Regions from separate parts of the Homo sapiens genome. Here region 1 is linked to region 2. Evidence: fine-mapped expression QTL. Tissue or cell type: tibial nerve. Region 2 holds a variant in brackets; the other region holds the start of a gene. All regions are shown on one strand. Distances are from middle to middle.

Region 1 (8,345 bases), 25 kb after region 2:
GGTCAGGATGTTGAGCCATCATGTTACATACTTATCAGAGTCCTGCTCCCTGGCATTGTAGACTTTCAGGATCAGGGCAGTGGTGTGCCCCCATCCCTCAAAAATCTGCATTTCTTTCTTTTCTTTTCTTTTCTTTTCTTTTTTTTTTTTTTGTGGCAGGGTCTCACTCTGTCACCCAGGCTAGAGTGCAGCGATGTAATCTCAGCTCACTGCAACCTCCGCCTCCCAGGTTGAAGCGATTCTCCTGCCTCAGTCTCCCAACTAGCTGGGATTACAGGTGCACGCCACTACACCGGGCTAATTTTTGTATTTTTTGTAGAGATGGGGGGTCTCACCATGTTACCCAGGCTGGTGTGGAACTCCTGAGCTCCAGTGATCCTCCCACCTCAGCCTCCCAAAGTGTTAGGATTACCGGCATGAGCCACCACGCCCGGCCCATTGTCTCCTCTTTTCTGCTGTGATACCTAGGTCAACAAAGTAGGGAACTATCAGGGACTAACCTAATCCATAAATAACATTATTAAGTAACATTCATACTTGATCCTGACTTCCTTAGTTTTTACCTAATGTCCTCTTCTTGATTCTAGGGTCCCATCCAGGACACCACACTGCATTTAGTCAGCTGCCTCCTTAGTCTCCACTTGGCTCTGACAGTGTCTCAAAATTTCCTTGTTTTGGATGACCTTGACAATTTTGAGAGGTCCTAATCAGGCATTTTGTAGAATGCCTCTCGGATGGGATTTGTCTGGCATTTTTCTCAGGACTAGACTGGGATTACTGGTTTGGGAGGAAGACCACAGAGGAAAAGTTCTATTCTCACCACATCACACCAAGGGTGTATGCCATCATCACAATCTGTCACTATCGATGTTGTCCTTGATCACCTTCTGAGACAGTGTTTGTTGGGTTTCTCCACTATACAGTTGCTGTTCCCCCCACTTTCCAAACTCTACCCTTTATAAGGAAGCCACTACGCACATCTCATGCTTACACGGTGGGACGTTATGCTTCACTTCCTCAATGGGGCAATTATCAACATACGTTATTCAGATTTCTTCTATACGAGAGATTTTCCTATTTATTTATTATCATCTGTTCAATAATTTATACATATATATATTTCATTATGGCCTCATGGATATTTATTTCATACTTTATGACCTAGTATATTTTGGTTTTTGCAAAGCATTTGATCCTGGTATCCCTGGTATTCTGGGGGTAGGTGGTAAACTGTGGACAATCAGCTCTAAGTTCACTGAACTACATATCTAATGAATGATCATTATCCATCCCAGAGCACAAGTGGCTGGGAAATCAATGTCACTGCCTGATTTTAAAACAAATAAAATAGAAACAGTCAGAGTACACTGCATTTCGTAAGGGAGCCCCCCCCCCCCGCCCCCCGCCACCCCACCGCTGGAAAACAACACTCCGATTTTTTAATGCATCAGGGGATAAGATGGGTAGTGAGTAGAGATGCAAAATATATTTCCACGGGTCTCGGTCAATACAGCATAAGCCGAAAACCACCCCTACAAGTGCCTCGGGGCCCTGTCCATGGTCCTGCCCTGCAATGTTTAACCAGCCTTGTGGATTCAGACACACCAAGCACTGCTTCTCCAGCCCGCAGGCAGCAGCACAGCTGAGAGTGATAGAGGTAGGATGCTAGATTCTCTTTCTTGACAGATACAATGTGATGAAATGAACAAGACGAAATTAAATGGGAATAAGGGCCAAGAAACAGGCTTAGATTCCAGAAATTACTGACAGACAACAGGCCCGAATGCTTCCACAAGCCAGGATTGTTAAAAGAAAAAAGAAAAGAAAAGAAAAGAAAAAGGAATTGTGTACAGTAAGAGAGACTAAAAGGTGACAACAACCACATACACTGCACAGTCCTGGAGAGGAAACAGCAAAAATGGACATTTTGGGGTCAAATAGGGAAATCTGAAAAAGGTCTGCATATTAAACCAGATGAAAATTTATTGAAGCAGAAAAGTCATGATCATTTACCGGCAAAAAAAATCAGGTTACAAAACAGTATGCACAGTATGATCTCATTTTCTGGAGAAAATTGACATATAAGCATGGAAACAGCTCTGGAAAGGTCTGACAGAAGTGTCATTGAGGCGCTGCCTGAGAGATAGGACACAATACTTTTTATTTTGCTTGTCCCTATTTCCAGTTTTCTGCAATGCATATCCACCGCTTCTGTAGTAATCTCAGAGTATGCTTTTAAAAGAAAAAAATCACTGACCCTCCCCGAAGGGTGGAGAATCCCTGGCTTGGCAGAGGTTTCTAAAACAGATCCCTGGAGGTTTCGGTGGCCAGAAACTTAATATAAGCAGAGTGCAGTGCCCCATTCAGAGGCAGCCCCACCCTAAGCTGTGTGCATATGTGTGAGGTCTTGGGGCTAATATAGTCCTGGTGGGGGCGGCGGGGGGCGGTCTGCTTGTCCAGCCCTTTCATGTTATTGCTAGGAAAACTGAATCACAGAATTAGTCGATGGCAGCTCCAAGGCCAGAAGCCAGAGGTCTGGCTACTGGGTCACATGGAAATGGCCTAGGGCTTCAGGAACTGGGGTATTTGGCCTGGAGAAGGGAAAATGGGAGTATGGAGCTGGGAAGGAGAGAAGGGGCAGGAGTGCTATTTTCAAATATTTAAAGGCTCCCCCAAAGAAGAGAGACCTATGTGAGTCCCCGTGCAGAACGGTGATGACTAAGTGACAAGCAGGTCTGTCTCTAGAGTGTATGAGGGAGAAGGTTCTAATGGCAGGAACTGTCCAGCTGGGGGAGAAGTGGGTGAGGCTTGCTGGGCACGTGGCTGAGGCCGGTGGCCCCTGCCAGAGGTTGTTGGGAGGCCCTTCCCACTACTGAGGCTCTGAGTTCGGGGACTCCAGGTTTCAGCCAGAGCTGGTAGCTTCTTTACCCGACCTGCAGTCTGTGTTCTGAGAGGAAGGAGCGCGACTATCCCCATGCCAGGAGTCTGCTCAGCCTGCCCCAGATGGGAGCCACTGGAAAAACGGAAGGGCTTGGCTGGCCTTTGGGGAAGAAGGGTCATGGTGGCAGCAGGCAGTGTCCCTCAGCAAAGCCCCGCAGAGGGCAGTCTGGGCTCTCACAGGCACTGCAGTGGTCTTTCCTGTGGTGGGTACCTGAGTTCTCAAGCCCTGAAGCTGCCTCACTCTCTTCTGCCCACAGCTCTCAGCGACTCACAAGTCCCGGCCCATGCCCAGGTGCGGGTGGAGAGATGATTCTCAATCGCCTCCCACTCTCTGGTGACGCAGAGGCACGGGCCCAACCTGGCCATCACCCAGCTTCTCCCATGTTCTGAAATGCCTGGTCCGACCTGTTCTGGGAACACAATGCCAGCCAGTGCCCATTTGAGGCCCATGGCCCCAGGCCCCCCATGCAGGGCCTGAGGCCTTAGATGGCCTTGGAAACCCACTTCTCAGGGCTTTTGGCTCCAGGGGAAACCCCTGACCATTTCAGCCAGGTGGGTGTCTTGTCCTCCCCTTGAGACACAGTCCCCAGTCCCCATGCCGGTGGCACCAGAGGACACTGGTGTAGTGTGCGTTTAGTGATATGACTCCGTCCACCCTACTGGCGGCACCGACCCTCCGCTTCCAGCCCTGTTAACAATCTACGTAAGTCCTGCTTTCCCCAAATAGATGCGGCCCCGCCACATGAAAGCCCTCTGCTCAGCCACCACTCCCCGAGCCTGGCTTTGCCTGGCCTGCTGCAACCAACACAGCCAGCTGCCAGCCTGGCTGCCCAGCAGAGCCTGAATGAGAGGTCACCCGACACTGGCCCGGGAGTACACGGTGGCCCCAGCAGACACCTCCTTCCGTGTCTGGGCAGGGTGTGTGCAGCCGAGGAGCCAAGGCTGCAGAGCACCCCTACCGGTCCCTTTCACCCCCTGGCCCGGCCCAGCAGGACGTACACAGACCCTTGCATCTTGGTCTCCGCAGCGCCGGGTGGGGTGGGGAGCCTAGGGCCGGATTCTGGCAGCTCTCTCCCCCAGACAAGGGTGGATGTGCAGACCGCTCAGAAGGACCTGCATGGCCGAGGAAGGAAGGTGGGCGCAGAAGCCACCCTAGGCGTGACGCGTGACGCTCGGGGCACGGGCGCCGGGGGGCGGAAAGCGAGGGCCCGGCTGGGCCAGGGATACCCGGGGGGGGCCGAGGTCCTGGGCTCCGGCGGAGGGAGGGGATTGGGAGGGAGGCCACCGCCTCGGGCCACGCGGGTGACCCGGCGGGGGAGCTGGGGGAGGGGCGGCGGGGCTGGGCTGGGGTCCCCGGGCCGGGACTGGGGTCGGGCCAGCTTACCTCCTCGCCCTGGCCGAAGCGCAGTCCGAGCGCCGCGACGCGCTCCACGCGCAGGAAGCCGTCGGGGTCGCGGCCGCACACCTCGAACACCTCGCGCAGGCGGCGCACGGAGCGCAGCAGAGCCGCGGGGGCGCCCGACCAGCCCGCGCCGCCCGCCATCCGGGCCGGCCCGCAGCTCAGCCCGGACCCCTCGCCCGCCGCGCCCGCCGCCTGCCCGCCGCCGCCATCGCCGCGCGCCCTCCGGGGCCGCCCGTCTGGGTCTGCGCCGCGCAGCCTCCGCCCGGTGGCGGCCGCGGCCGATCCGTGTCAGCAGCGGCGCCGCAGCCCCAGCCGCTCCGGAGGGGAAGGGAGGGGAGGGGAGGGAAGGAGAAGAGTGGGGAGGGGAAGGAGGAGGGGCAATAGGGGGCGGGGAGGGGAGGGGCGGGGGCCGCGGCGAAAATGGGAGGGAGAGGGGGAGGCGGCGGGGGCGGCGGCGGCGGGGACGCTGCAGACAAAAGGAGCCCGCGTCCTCCCGAGTGGGGCGGCCCACGCGGGGCCGGCAGGCGCAGCGAGCTGCCAACGGCCGCGTCCTCCGCGACCTCAGTTTCCCTCCGCGTCCCCAGTTTCCCTCCGCGTCCCCGAGCCCACCCCTTCCTCTGGACACCCGGAGCCACCCAAAGGCCCTGCCCTGCCGGAGGATTCCGCGGGGTCGCGCCCCTTTCCGCTATCCGTGCCCGCTGCCGCGCCTGGCGTCTCCCGAGCGCTCAGGATGTCCTGGGGGCCTCCTGCATTGGCGCGTTCCGTGACTGCATTCATCCCGGAGGAAGCTGAGGCCCAGAGAGGTCGGACTCACTCTAGGCCACACAGCTGGCAAGAGGCAGGGCCGGGATTCGCTGCCATCTCTGGAGGGCTCTGGACTCCGTTCTTCACCTCCGCCCTGCGGTCTCCCGGCGCTCTCCTGCAAGACAGCACTTGTGGGGCCATCGGGCGGGGGAGGGCACAGAGAGGAGGAGCAGGCAACTGAACCCCAGCCTGGACCCGGGACCCTGCGACGGGGAGATGAGGAGAAAACCAGGATGAGGCCGGAGGGAGGAAAAGCGAGGCGCTTCCAGAGGCCTGCCTGTTCAGGGCCCAAGGCTGCTCCACGCCTGGAAGAGGCTTCCTCCCTTTCGCCGGGTTCCCACCATCACACCTCCCTGGCAGCCCGCATGCCCCAAGCTCAGAGAATCCAGGACAGAATCTCTGTCCCGCTGGCCGCAGGCTCTAGGTCAGGACCCTGGCCTCCTCCCATTAGTGCTCAGCGGAGCCTCCACCCCAGCTTGTGCTAACTTCCCAGCCCAGCCTCGGGGCCCTGCAGGACCCGGCCGGGCTCTTCTCTCCACCTTCTTGCTCGGCACATCAGGTCTTTGTGGCAACGACTGGCCCCAACCCAAAAAAAGGCCTTGGCTGAGTCTACTCCCACCTATGCTGTCATGCTCAGCACAGAGGTTTCCTCCTCCGGGAAGGCTTCTCTGATGGCACGCCATCTTATCTTCTATTCTGAGTTCTAAGCCCTTCTTCCAGGTGCCCAGTTAATTCTTAATTCTCTAGTGGGATGCCCATTTCCCCTACCATGCTGGGAAGCCCTCCAGGGCAAGATATGTCTTAATTACCTTCAAGTCCCTGATCTCCAGGCAAGAGTGGGCCCAGAGGAAGCCCCACCCAGAGGGGATGGGCCCGCCCATTATGTGAGGAGCCGGGAGCAACGTAGTGGCGCAGACAGGGAGTACGGGGTGAACTGCATGGCCTCCCCTAGCTGGGCCTCGGTTTGTACCTCTGTGGTCTTCCTGCTCAACCCTGAATATATCCTGCGCAGGGACTGCCATTTGCCTTCTGACAGTGGGCGGGGACCTCTTCTTTCCAGCCCCGGCTCCTGGGATGAACCTGGCTTTTAGCTACTCTCCTTTGACCCTTCAGTTCGTCTGAGAGCCACGAAAGGCAACACCTCTTGGGAAGAGAGACCTGTGGTTCTGAGGATTGAGGAGTCCGAAATGTGAGAAAGCGGGAAAGGGGAGGCCGTGGGAGTGGAGTAGGGGTATTCGGCTGAGTAGGAGCGTCTCTGCTAGCTGGATGCCGCTCAGCAGGATACTAGCATATTTTAGCCGGTTTCCTCGCCTGTACCGTGAGGATAATAGTACCTTCCTTTTAGGGCAACTGAAGATGAGAGCGAATCTAAGCAATGCTGCTTTCCCCCGACCTACCCTGCAAAATGGAGGTGGAAGTGGAGAATAAGGACAAGCAGCTGGCTGGGAGAGACTGGCTGCTGGAGATCCAGCCAGCCCCCTGGCAAGGAGGTAGGGAGTGGAAGCTGGGGGCTGCTGCCTGCCCCTGGGACCCCGATATTAGTTCGTCCAAGGTCAGCTCGTGCCATTTTCTCTCACCCAAGGGGCTCAGCACAGAAAGGAGATGGCCAGGAGCTGGGGCTGCCCCCTGGTGGGGGCTGCAGAAATGGCTCTCCGCGCTCAGCCTGGCATTGAATGCCCCCTAACTGGGGACAGGGGAGCTGGAAGACTCACCCACTTCAGCTGGCAGAGGCGGGGACCTCAGACCTGAGCATGAACAAATCCCAAGTGAACCAAGACAGAATCCCGCAACCAGATTAGCCAGTTCTTGTCAAAGACAGGATCATCACAAATTCAAAAATCCCCCAGGAGAGCTTTCCCTGACCGGACTCTCCTTGCCCAGGTCTCTGCAGTTTTGTCTCTGGTGGGCGATGGTTTGAAGGACACCTGCCTCCCCCACCAGTGGCACTGGGTCTCTTGCTCACCGCTGTGCTGCTGGGGCCAGCAAAGCACGTCACAGGCATTCTTTCTGGGGTTGTCACGTTTTTGTTGAGCACCTACGTTGTGTTGGGTATGCTAGGGAGACAGTGAAAGGGGTGCAGCCACTTGCTGAACTTGATGGGGGCAGTCATGGCCCAGTGTGATCTACACTGAGGTGCCAGGCTCTAGGAGCCCAAGAGGGCCTGCAGAAATGGCTGAGTGCCTACCCAAAGGTCCCTCAGAGATGGTGCAATTTATGGAGTCCTTGGGTCCTTGGAAGTGGACCTGGGACCACTAGGGCTCCCAAAACCCTGATCCAAGAGCTCAGAGTGCAGCCCCGAGCAGAAGCAGCAAGAGAATACCCATGTCAGGGCCGGCTGCAGGGTGAAGGGGGTTGCTCCAGGAAAGCAAGAGGTCCCCATGGATAGGGCGGGAAGGCGCGGAGCCTCCTTTCTGTCCTCCGCTTCCTCCAGGTGACCTCTGATTCTCCAGGGGATTTCCAACAGCTGCAGCAGCCTGGGCAGGCTGGAAATATACTGGGAAATATACATGGAAGGGACAGTTGGGACTCCGGCCCCTTCTCTAGGAAGAAACAAGTTTGATCAGGTCCCTCCCCTGCTGAAAACTCAATGGCCACCATTGCCTGAGCTGGCATTGTGCAGTGTCTTCATACTCTCCTGCCTCTCCTTAACCCTAGTCTGGGAGCATCCAGGCTCCCTCCTGCCTCCCTTTGCTTAGTGGGTGGGAGGTCTCAATCCTACCCCCACCCAATTCCACTTTCTCTAATTCCTGTCCTTGTGTTGTGGAAGTGGCACTTCCTACCGGAAGCCTTTCATGACCACCCCACTCCTTGCCCACCTTGACCACCTCTCCCATGTGCTCCTGCAGAGAAGTGAAAAGTACAGACTGCAGCCCACTTACAGGTATGGATAAGGCTGTGGTGAGAGTCAGTAAGTTAATACATACATTGTAAGTGTCAGAACAGTGCTGCTGGTTAGTGACAGCTATTGTCCTTGTGACTATCCTTACCATCTTACTCCTATTGTCTATCACCGGATTATCTGGGAAACTGTATGAAAGGTCACAGGAGTGACCATGAGGTCCCTGGGAGCAGGGACTGTGTCTATTTCTCTCCTGATTTCTGTAGCTCCTAAATAATGCCCATACACACATAGTTAGGGTCTGTGTAGGAATAAATTAAGGAATGGACAAATATGGCATGGTAGGCTGAAAAATGCCCC
Region 2 (11,329 bases):
TGGTGGCAGACACCTGTAGTCCCAGCAACTCAGGAGGCTGAGGCAGGAGAATGGCATGAACCCAGGAAGCAGAGCTTGCAGTGAGCCGAGATCGTGCCACTGCACTCCAGCCTGAGTGACAGAGCGAGACTCCGTCTCAAAAAAAAAAAAAAAAAAAAGGCAATCAATAGATAGATACCAATGCTAAGATGACCCAGATGTTGCCATTATTAGACAAAGACTTTAAAAAAGTTATTATAACCATGCTCCATGGTTCAGTAAAGGTGAACAATCCGAAATAAATGGAAATTTCGAAATTCTTGCAGAAAAATAGATGCTAGAAAAAAGGAACCAAATGGAAATTTTAGAACTAAAAAATACAATATATGAAATAAAAGTTCATTGGATTGGATCAATAGCAGAACGGAAATCACAGTACAAACAGTGATAGAACAACAGAAATTGCCTAATCCAAACAAGGAAAATTACCAAGGATTCAGACAAACATTATATTAAAGGGTCAACTCACCAAGAAGATACATAACAATCCTAAATGCATATGTCCCTAAAAACAGAGCTTCAAAATACATGAAGCCAAACTAATAAAATTGAAAGGAGAAATAGACAAATTGACAATCATAGTTGGAGACTTCAACACTCCTCTAGAGAATATAACCAGTTAGATAGAAAATCTAATTTTTAACAGTAGAGCTAGTTAGATGAAAAATCAACAAGGGATCTAAAAGGTCTGAATACCACCACTAACCAGCTTAACCTAATTGATGTTTATCGAACACACCACCCAAGAATAGCAGAATACACGTTCTCTTCATGTAAACATGGAACTGTCACCAAGGTAGATCATGTAGATCATATCTTGGACGATTAAACAAACTATAATACTTTTTTTGTGTGTGGTGGGGAGGCAGGATCTTACTCTGTCACCTTGGCTGGAGTGCAGCGGTGTGATCATAGCTCACTGCAGCCTCCACCTCCCAGACTCAAGCAATACTCCCACCTCAGCCTCCCGAGTAGCTGGGACTACAGGGATATGTCAACACGCCCAGCTAATTTTCTTGTAGAGACGGGGGGTCTCACTATGTTGCCCAGGCTGGTCTCGAACTCCTGGCCTCAAGAGATCCTCCTGCCTTAGCCTCCCAAAGTGCTGGGATTACAGGCATGAGCCACAGAGTCTGGCAACAAATTTTTAAAAACTGAAATTATAAATGTATGTCTTGCCGGGCGTGGTGGCTCACATCTATAATCCTGGCACTTTGGGAGGGGCTGAGGCAGGTGGATCACCTGAGGTCAGGAGTTTGAGACCAGCCCGGCCAACATAGTGAAACCCCATCCCTACTAAAAATACAAAAAATTAGCTGGGCGTGGTGGTGGGCACCTGTAATCCCAGCTTACTAGGGAGGCTGAGGCAAGAGAATCACTTGAACCCAGGAGGCGAAGTTTGCAGTGAGCCGAGATTGCGCTATTGCACTCCAGCCTGGGCAACAAGAGCAAAACTCTGTCTCAAAAAAAAAAAAAAAAAAGTCCTGTGACTATAATATAATTAAACTAAAAATCAGTCTCAGGGCTCAGTGGCTCACGTTTGTAATCCCAGAGCTTTTGGAGGCTGAGGCAGGTGGATCACTTGAGGTCAGGAGTTCAAGACCAGCCTGGGCAACATGGTGAAACCCCATCTCTACTAACAATACAAAAATTAGCTGGGCATGGTGTCCTGTGCCTATAATCCCAGCTACTTGAGAGGCTGAAGCACGAGAATTACTTGAACCTGGGAGATGGAGATTTCGGTGAGCTGAGATCACACACTGCACTTCAGCCTGGGCAACAGAGCGAGACTGTCTCAAAAAAAAAGAAAAGAAAAGAAATTTTAAAACAAGCAAAAAAATCAAAAACAGAAAGGCATCTGAAAAATCCTCAAATACTTGGGAATTAGGCAGTATGTGTCTAAATAATTCATGAGTCAAAGATGAAGTATCTTTTTGTTTGTTTGTTTGTTTGAGATGGAGTTTTGCTCTTGTTGCCTAGGCTGGAGTGCAATGGCGTGATCTCGGCTCACTGCAACCTCTGCCTCCCGGGTTCAAGCAATTCTCCTGCCTCAACCTCCCGAGTAGCTGGGATTACAGGCATGCACCACCATGCCTGGCTAATTTTGTATTTTTTAGTAGAGATGGGGTTTCTTCATATGGGTCAGGCTGGGCTTGAACTCTCGACCTCAGGTGATCCACCCCCTTCGGCCTCCCAAAGTGCTGAGATTACAGGCATGAGCCACCGCACCCAGCCCCAAAGTCTCAAGAGAAAATAAAAATAATTTAAACTAAATGAAAATGAAAATACAATACCATAAAATTCAAGCCCAAAGCAAAAGGGAGGAAAGAAATAATAAAGATAAGAGCAGAAATTAATAAAATTAAAAATGAGACTGGTAGAGAAAAATCAACAAAACCCAAATCTGGTTTTTTTTTTGAAAAGATTAACAAAACTGATGCATCTCTAACCAGAATGACAGAGAGAAAGAGAGAGAGAATACAAATCACCAATATAAAAAATGAGGCTGAGCACAGTGGCTCACACCTGTCATCCCAGCACTTTGGGAGGCCAAGGTGGGAGGATCGCTTGAGACCAGGCATTCAAGATCAGCCTGGGCAACATAGCAAGACCCCATCTCTACAAAAGATTAAAAAAATTAGCCAAGCATGGTGGCACATGCCTCTGGTCCCAGCTACCGGGGTTGGGTGAGGTGGGAGGATCGCTTGAGCCAGGGAGGTCAAGGCTGCAGTGAGCCTTGATTACACCACTGCACTCTAGCCTGGGTGACAGAGTGTGACCTTGTCTCGAAAAAAAAGAAAACAGAGATATCATTACAGTCTTACATCCTTTAAAAGGCTAATAAGGGAACACTAGAAACACTTCTACACACATAATTTCTACAACTTAGATGAGCTAATGGACCAATTCTTTGAAAAACACAAACTACCAAAACTCATGCAAGAAGAAATAGATAATCTGAACAGTCCTTGAGTGATTAAAGAAATTAATTTCCCAATTTATATCCTTCCAAAAAGGAAAACCTCAGGACCAGATAATTTCACTAAGTATTTAAGGAAAATATACATAAATTCTACACTACCTCTTCCAGAGAATAGAAGAGCCACTTCCCAACTCGTTTTATGGGGCCAGCAATAATACCCTGTTACCCAAACCAAACAAAAGCAATATAAGAAAACTACAAACCTGCTGGGCGCAGTGGCTCATGCCTGTAATCCCAGCACTTTGGGAGGCTGAGGTGGGCGGATCATGAGATCAGGAGATCGAGACCATCCTGGCTAACACAGTGAAACCCCGTCTCTACTAAAAATACAAAAAATTAGCCGGGCATGGTGGTGGGCGCCTGTAGTCCCAGCTACTCGGGAGGCTGAGGCAGGAGAATGGCGTGAACCCGGGAGGCGGAGCTTGCAATGAGCCGAGATCGCCCCACTGCACTCTAGCCTGGGCGACAGAGTGAGACTCAGTCTCAAAAAAAAAAAAAAAGAAAAAAGAAAACTACAAACCAATATCCCTCATGAACACAGATGCAATGAGCCTCTGCAAAATATTAGCAAATCGAATCCAGGAGATATATATGAAAAATATAACAAGACAAGCAGCCGAATGGGGTTTATTCAGCAAAGCTGGCCCAACATTTGAAAACTAATGGATGTAATCTAAACATGACCAAAGAAGAAAAACCTATCAAAAGATGCAGAGAAATCAAGTGGCAAAATTTAACATCCATTCATGATACCAAAAAAAAAAAACAAAAAAACTCTCAACAAAGTAGAAATATAAGGGAACTTCCTTATCCTTCCTTATCTTAGAGAAATGAAAACTTACATTCACACACACCCACACAAAACTGCACAAAAATGTCCACAGCAGCATTACACATAATCACCCAAACCTAGAAACATCCCCAGTGTCTCTCAACAAGTGAATGGATAAGCAAGTGTTCCCTAACCAAAAAGAACAAATGATTATGCTACGGGAAAGAAACCACTCCCAAAGGTTACAAACTGTATGATTCCATTTACGTGCAAAAGGCAAAACCATAGTGACAAAGCCAGATCAGTGGGTGCCAAGAGCGAGGAGGAGGGACTGAAGACAAAGGAGCAGCCGGAGAGAATTTGGGGGATGAGCCGTTCTGTCCCTGATGGCAGTGGGAGTCACAGGAGTCTATGTAAATAGTGACACTTCTTCCCCCACCCCCAAAAAGCGAATTTTACTGTATGTAAAGTAAAAACAATTTTTTAAAATTTTTCTTTAAAAATCAAGGGAACTGGCTGGGCACGGTAGCTCACAGCTGTAACCCCAGCACTTTGGGAGTGGGTCAAGGCAGGAGGATCGCTTGAGCTCAGGAGTTCCAGACCAGCCTGGGCAACATGGCAAAACCCTGTCTCTGCAAAAAATGAACAAAATTAGCCAGGTGTGGTGGTGCACGCCTGTAGTCCCAGCTACTTCGGAGGCTGAGGCGGGAGAATCACCTGAGCCCGGGAAGTCAAGGCTGCAGTGAACTGTGATTGTGCCACTGCACTCCAGCCTGAGTGACACAGTGAGACCCTGTCTCAAAAAAAAAAAAAAAAAATCAAGGGAACTGCACATACAAAGTTGGATATCTGACTTTAAATTTTTATTTTTATTTATTTTATTTTATTTTTTTGAGACGAAGTCTCACTCTTGTCTCCCAGGCTGGAATGCAATGGTGCGATCTCGGCTCACTGCAACCTCCGCCTCCCGGGTTCAAGCGATTTTGCTGCCTCAGCCTCCTGAGTAGCTGGGATTACAGGTGCCTGCCACCACACCCAGCTAATTTTTGTATTTTTAGTAGAGACGAGGTTTCACCATGTTGGCCAGGCTGGTCTCGAACTCCTGACCTCAGGTGATCCGCCCGCCTTGTCCTCCCAAAGTGCTGGGATTACAGGCATGAGCCACTACGCCTAGCCTATTTTTATTTTTGTTATAGACAGGGTCTCACTGTCACCCAGGCTGGAGTGCAGTGGCATGATCATAGCTCACAGCAGCCTCGACCTCCCAGGTTGAAGGGATCCTCCCAACTCAGCCTCCCAAGTAGCTGGGAGTACAGGCATACACCACTACACCTGGCTAATTTTTTGTAGAGATGGGGTCTCATTATGTTGCCCAGGTTGGTCTTGAACTCCTGGCCTCAAGTGATCCTCCTGCCTTGACTTCCCAAAGTGTTGGGATTACAGGCATAGCCCCCATGCCCAGCCCCTGGCTTTTCTTGAAAAATCAGATCTGGCAATACAGGTCCCATATTCCCCCACAGCAACAATGAGCGACAGCTGAATTCAAGCACACTCTTTAGAAAGGGAATGTATTCTGCTCCCCAGCTGTCTATGGGAACCCCCAAATCTCAAGTAGTTCCCCACCGCAGCCCCACCTAGGCTGCATTCCTTCCTGGCCCCCATGGGCATCGGAGTGGCAATTCCTGCTACCCCAGGCACTAACCTGGGCTTGGCTGGGCACCTGACATCGTCTATATCCACAAAAGGGGTTTCAGGGCTTGGCTTGGAGTAGGGTGAAGTTGAAACTCCCCAGCATTTTTATGCTGTTTTAGCAGCCACAATAGAAGACAGATGGGAAAAGAGGGGAAAGGACAGTGCCTGTGGGGTGAGAGGGGCCTACAAAGACAGTGGCAGGTCTGGGCACCTGGAGACTCCCTGCAGCAGGCCGGGAAGTGCCTTTTGAACCCACGTGGAGCCTAGATTTCCCTGGCAGTGCTTCTGGGGAAGGGACCCTCTGGAGGAGGTGAGGCAGGTGCTGGGGCCAGATCCTTGCTCAGGGGTGGCCACTCTGGAGGCCTTACAGTCAGGAGACACCTGTGAGGACACTGGGGTACCGGAGGCATCGTAAATCCCAGGACCAGTTGCAGGGTTTCCTGCTAGGAGCTGGCCAGGTGAGGGGGACAGTGGGGAAGGACGTGAAGGGCAGCAAGAGGGAACAGGAGAGGGAGAGGGGGCAATGCTGGCAAACGCAGGGGGTCTGGGGTGGATGGAAGGAATATGGGGAGGGGGCGTCATCAAGAGATGGGGCCAAAGAGAGAGGGAACAGGCCTGAAAGAGAAGGGCTTACGAGCCAGGCAAAGGGCCTGTATGTGCTTTATCCTGAATATGGGCGATAGGAAGCACAGGGGCAAGTGCTGACAGCGGCAGAGCTGGCTGGTGTCAGGCAGCCTTCGAAGCACTCAAGTGCATCACTCCCAGCAGCCCTGTGAAGTAGCCAAACCGCCAGTCATTCCCCTCTTACAGCAGTGGACCCTGTTGCTGTGCTGGCCTCACCGCACAGCAGGCAGGGTTGGAATCCAACTGCCCCTAGCTCTGTCCCTCTTCAGACTGGCCCCTTCTCCTGCTGCTGCAGGGGCTCTGGCCCTCTCCTGGGGCTTCAGGCGAGATGCTCCAGCTGCTTGTTTATCCTCACTCCCAGCAGTCCAGCTGCCTGACATCAGGGCACACAATAGGACCCTGTATTCTGGAGCCGCCACCCCCAGGCCGGCC[G/A]GTGGGACAAAGGGCACAGGCCGCCACTGGCCCTCTCCATTAATTCTGAGGCCAGGATGGGAAGGGAGCCAGGCAAGAACTTCAGCAACACCGGCCTGAGACAAGGGATGAGGGAGGCATTTCCAAAGTGGGTCCTTCCAGTTCCTGCACCCTGAGCCCAGGCCAAAACATCCCACTGTCTTGCTCCCACTCCCTAAGCCCGCTCCCCTCCATGTGAAGGGCTGTCCCACGGAATCAGTCAGACTTACCCTGGGTAGGCCACTGGTAGAGGGGGTATGTGGTTGTGGAAAGCATCCTGGAGGAGTCAGGAGCCCCGGGCCCAGGACCAGCTCCGCAATTAGTGGCGCCCAGGGCAAAGGGGAACATTACCACGAATTTCAAGAAGGCAACCCCAGAGCACTAATCCCTGAGTGACTGCACAGGTCGCATGCCGAGAGAGCGGGCTCTGCCTGGGCTTCGATAAGGTACCACTGCGTGACCTCGGGCAAGCCCTGTTGCCTCTCTGGGCCTCAGTTTCTGTATCTATAATGCACTTCCGACCAGCTCACAGGACCGCTGTGACGATCAGATCAGACTATGAGTCAAGGACATCAGAGGCTGCAGAGTGCCATGGATGTGCCAGGTGCAAAGATGCATAAAGGGGGCCTGAGGGTGAGCCTTCCCCCGGGAAGGGACAGGCAGAGGGGCCACCAGCCAGCTGGGAGGCTGCGGAGACCGTCCGCAGGGGGGCTGAGGTGAGAAAGTAGGGTGGTCCCTGAGACCCTCTGAGAATCTCAGGGATGCTGTGCTTCCTGGGCCCTCCATCCAGTCCCAGCTCCACCACAGACTGCTTTACTGAGTGGTCTCGCTGAGCTCCTTCCCCTCTCTCGGCCTCAGTTTCCCCATCTGGACAATGACAGCACTGGATAACATTAATATTGAATGTCTCTTCCAGCTCTGAAGTCTCTATGATCGTAATGCTTTCAGGCATGTTTGGGGTGGGCATGGGGATTGGGGGGAGGAAGAGAAGAAAACCAGAGTGGAGAAGCAGACGGGGTCAGAGGACTGGGAGAAAAATGCCTCCATTTACTGGAGCTTCACCACGGAACAAGTAAATGGCTTGGGGACCTTGGAGTGGGTGTGGCCCTGGGGAATTACTCAACCTCTCTTCCGAGCCTTTTACTTCCCCTCTTCTATAAAGTCAAGAAATAATGACAAGAACGGAGGCAGATTCGTCAGTCACCACTATCCTGCCCCTCCCCTCCTCTTTGTCCACGTAGAGCGCCCCCTGGGCCTGAGGTGCCCACCTCCTGTCTGACCAGGTGCCTGGGGCCACTCAACCTGGAGCATGAGTTCTGACTGGACCAAGCCAGTTCCGGGGGGCTCTTCCCCCTTGCCAGTGATTGGTTCAGGCAAAGGCATGTTCTACATCTCTGGCCAATAAGCCATGAGAAGACATCTGCAGGGGGCTCTGGGAGAGGCTGTCTCTGGAGGGTGGGGCCCATGAACAGGAAGCTGTCCCCTCCCTGCTTCCCCTGCTGGAGAAGGGATGCCCTCTTGGGTCAACGCTGGGAAGCTCAATGGAAGGGGATTGGGTCCTAGCTGGTGCCTCTGAGCCCCTGAGGAACCAGCCCTGGAGCTGCCCTACCTTGGACCCTTGTGTTATAAGGAAGAATACACTTGCCTCAGCATGTAAGTTATTTTGCATTGCTTCCTGGTTCTCACAGCTGGAGGGCCCCTGCCCAATGAAGGACCCCGCCTCAGGGACCCACTGGGATAAAAGGTGGTGATGGGAGGGGAGGTGGAGAGGGCCTGTGCGGCTTTGGAGTGCCTCTGGCCAGGGTGGCTAGACATCCAGAGGGCTGGCCAGCACCATGGCCCAGTGACATGGTACCCAGGCCACCGCCTCCTGGGAAGCGCTGTCCCAGCCGCCACAGCTGGAGACATCTTCCTTTATGGGACCGCCAACACCTCCATCCATCTGAGTGTCATCAGGTGGCCCCTCATTCACAGCCTGAGTCTGGGCTGACAGAATCCCTCCGGCCACCCACAAGGGCTTTGTTTGGGGTCTGAATAGGAGCGAAAGTGACAGAAGCCTGGGTGGTCTCTGAAGTGGACTGGCCTCTGCAGGCATCCGCCCATCTGTCCGTTCCTTTTGCAAATGTTTCCACAGCTCTTCAGCCAGACTGACTGGCCTGTGGGGAGACAGAGAGGCTCCCAGGAAGCTCCCAGGGAAGGAACAGATGTCCTGGAGTTATTTTTGAGTGAAATAAAAATAGCCTCGGGAATAGCATAAAAGTGTGTAGGTGACTGTTAATACTGCCACACGCCCAGAGGCAGGGTAGCGTGGCTCCCAGCCTCTGGAGGCAGACATTGCTGAGCTGGAATCCCACCTCCTCCATTTCCCAGCTGTGTGACCAGTGGTGGATGACTCAACCTCCCTGAGCAACATCATTGCCTCATCATGTGTTAGGACTGAGAGGGGATGGCATATCAAGACAGCCTGGCAGCTGACACAGAGCAGGCTCGGGATAAATGAGGCTTTCATAGGCAGAGCATGCCTGGACGCTGGTCAGGAAGCTGCGGACACCCGTGAACCTCATGAGCTGGGACAGCCAGTCGTTGCACCTCTTCTTCCAGCAATTTTTAACTGGCTGAATTTAAAATATGAACTGGATCATTTTTAAACTTCGGGGAAAAAAACTCAATGAAACTCTTATGACTCTTTTGAAAAACTGCTGATAGCACTGTAGGGGAAGATAAGACAGAATCCATCACAATGTAACCCCCTCGAAGGTGTTACCCCAAATCCTTGCAGTTTTGGGGCCCAGAGGAGACAGACAGCCCAGAGGGCTTGGGAGATGTGGAAGGGCCTTGGAGGAGGAGGGGGTTATGCTGGACTGCAGGTGGAAGAACTGACACAGCAGGTGTGGGGAATGGGAATTCAAGAAGCGGGGCGTTGGTGTGAGCAAAAGGGAGGGAGGAGGGAGAGGGTAGCCAAGGCCAGGCCGTAGAGGTGCTCGAAGGGTCTGAGGAACCACCAGCTGTTCTCAGTGGCTGGAGGGCAGGGGGAGGCTAAATATGGGGGCGGGGGAAGAGGGAAGACACTCTCTTCTCGGGGGGCCTATGGAAGGACAGCTCCCTCCGTGCCCTCCGTGTGAGGCCCTCTGTTGACATCTCTGGCTCTCAGCATAGTTTGAAAGGCGCTGCTCGCTGTGGGCTTTGGTTGGCTTTAGACCCATTATTTAAGGTTACATGGGAATGTCTGCTCATCAAAGGGGGGTGCTGGCCTGCAGGAGTTGGGCCACTCTGAGCTGTGGTCCCTGGACCCTGCCTCCTCTAACCCATCTATCCCGCCCCATCCGAAACATGCCGAGCTCCCCAGCTCTGACACTTCAACTAGACTCAAACTGAAAAGCTCCCGCCAGTCCTCCCTCCATTCCCCAGAAAATGAGTTAACCAGGACACCTCATGGCCTTTCAGTAAATTGAGGTTTAGCTACAGAAACAAAGCAAAATACAGTGGCTCCAGGCAGAAATTCCACTGTTGCTGTCAGTACAACACAAGATGGCAAGTGAGAAGGGCGACTTGTTCTGGGAATCCCATAATGGAATTTCAAACGTACCATGAGGCCCTGGCAGACCCCGACCTCTCTGAGCCTCAGTTTTTTTGCCTGTGAAATGGGGCAGGTACTGCTCCTCACCTCACTGCCCACTGGTCAATCTCTCCACCACGGAAACCCCACTTGGATCCCAGGGGAGGTGCAGCCTGTAGCCCTGGCAGAGGACCTGAAACCTATCTGCGCCTGGTGTCTGCCTGCTCCCTGGGACTCACTGGTGTTCACGTACATTTCCTGGGCCAGGTCTAGCCAGGGGCTGGGGACAAGAGGAGCTCCCAGGCTCTGTGGGCAGCAGAGATTAAGGTGGCCCCGCCCCTTCCTATCCGTGGTCCCTGTGATGGGACAGGGCAGGATGGGGATTAAGGTTCCAGTTTCACTGATGAAGCAAGTGGGACCCAGAGAGGTTGAGTCCTTCACCCAAGATCACCAGGATGGCATTTCTTAGAGAGTGTCAATGTGTTACATGTAGAAAGGTTTCTGAAATCCGTAAGTTTGAGACAGGTTAGGCTGGAGTCAGCATTTTTACCCGGAGGCTTTCCTGGACTAAAGTGAAGGGGGAGCGGGCTCCATTTCCACATTGCTTGACCAACTGCTGGATCAGAATACCCTTTCCTCCCTCTGTTTGCTGGACACGGGTGGGACCCCTGCTCTGGGGATCTAGAGCTTTTCTCCCTTGCACAGGACATTAAATGGGCCATTTCCATGGCAAAACCGGCATCTGTGTGAGAGGAGGGTGGTGGTGTGCGCAGTCACCCCTAGAGGATGAACTGTCTAGGTTCACTTGCTCCACACCCCTGCCTGCAGCTCGTGGGTTCAGCTGCCAGCACTGATGCACTCACTTGGGGAGGAGAAATTCTGGTGGGTCCTCCCAGGACCAAGCTGCTCCCCAGGTGATTGAACTCAGCATCCCCAAACAGAACAAGTGAACCTCACACGGCCCCTCATGAGATGCTCGGTCCTACCCAGCCTGGCTGCGGCCCTCCCAGAGCCCCGACTGAGGCAAGGACGATGGCCAGAGGGGCTGTCTATGTCTCAGGCTTTCTAGCCCTCGCTTCCTCTCTGCTGCAACTGCACCTTCTCCTCGGAAGGACGCCCTGCAGTCTGAGTAGCTGTCCTCATGGGAGGCACCCCCAGGCAGCTCAGCAAATTCCTCAGGGCCCGTATGGCAGGGCCAAGGGCCACAGGGGAG

Which allele goes with the higher level. Positions count from the first base shown, and alleles are read on the strand shown. Sizes are in standard deviations (SD) of each study's normalised expression.
For the expression in tibial nerve of the gene that starts at base 4,661 in region 1, A is the high allele of the variant in region 2 and G is the other (large effect, 0.83 SD a copy in GTEx).

Evidence for each region. PIP is the estimated chance that this variant, and not a neighbour inherited with it, causes the effect.
Region 1: RAB11FIP4 starts here. The variant in region 2 is fine-mapped to the expression of RAB11FIP4 in tibial nerve (GTEx, PIP above 0.99). The same link has a PIP of 0.9 or more in esophagus muscle.

What each region holds. Positions count from the first base shown.
Region 1 is chr17:31,387,991-31,396,335 of GRCh38, reverse strand. It overlaps RAB11FIP4 (RAB11 family interacting protein 4), which reads right to left and starts at 4,661. Exons shown (of 15, transcript NM_032932.6): 1 at 4,325-4,661. The coding sequence starts at 4,483. RefSeq lists an enhancer at 4,857-5,446.
Region 2 is chr17:31,411,747-31,423,075 of GRCh38, reverse strand. The region is part of intron 1 of RAB11FIP4 (RAB11 family interacting protein 4); the gene reads right to left. It overlaps LOC124903977 (a long non-coding RNA gene), which reads left to right and starts at 7,976. Exons shown (of 2, transcript XR_007065706.1): 1 at 7,976-8,213; 2 at 8,695-8,819. RefSeq lists enhancers at 5,608-6,447, 6,448-7,288, 7,764-8,727, 10,658-11,329. The variant G/A (reference allele first, on the strand shown) is at 6,543.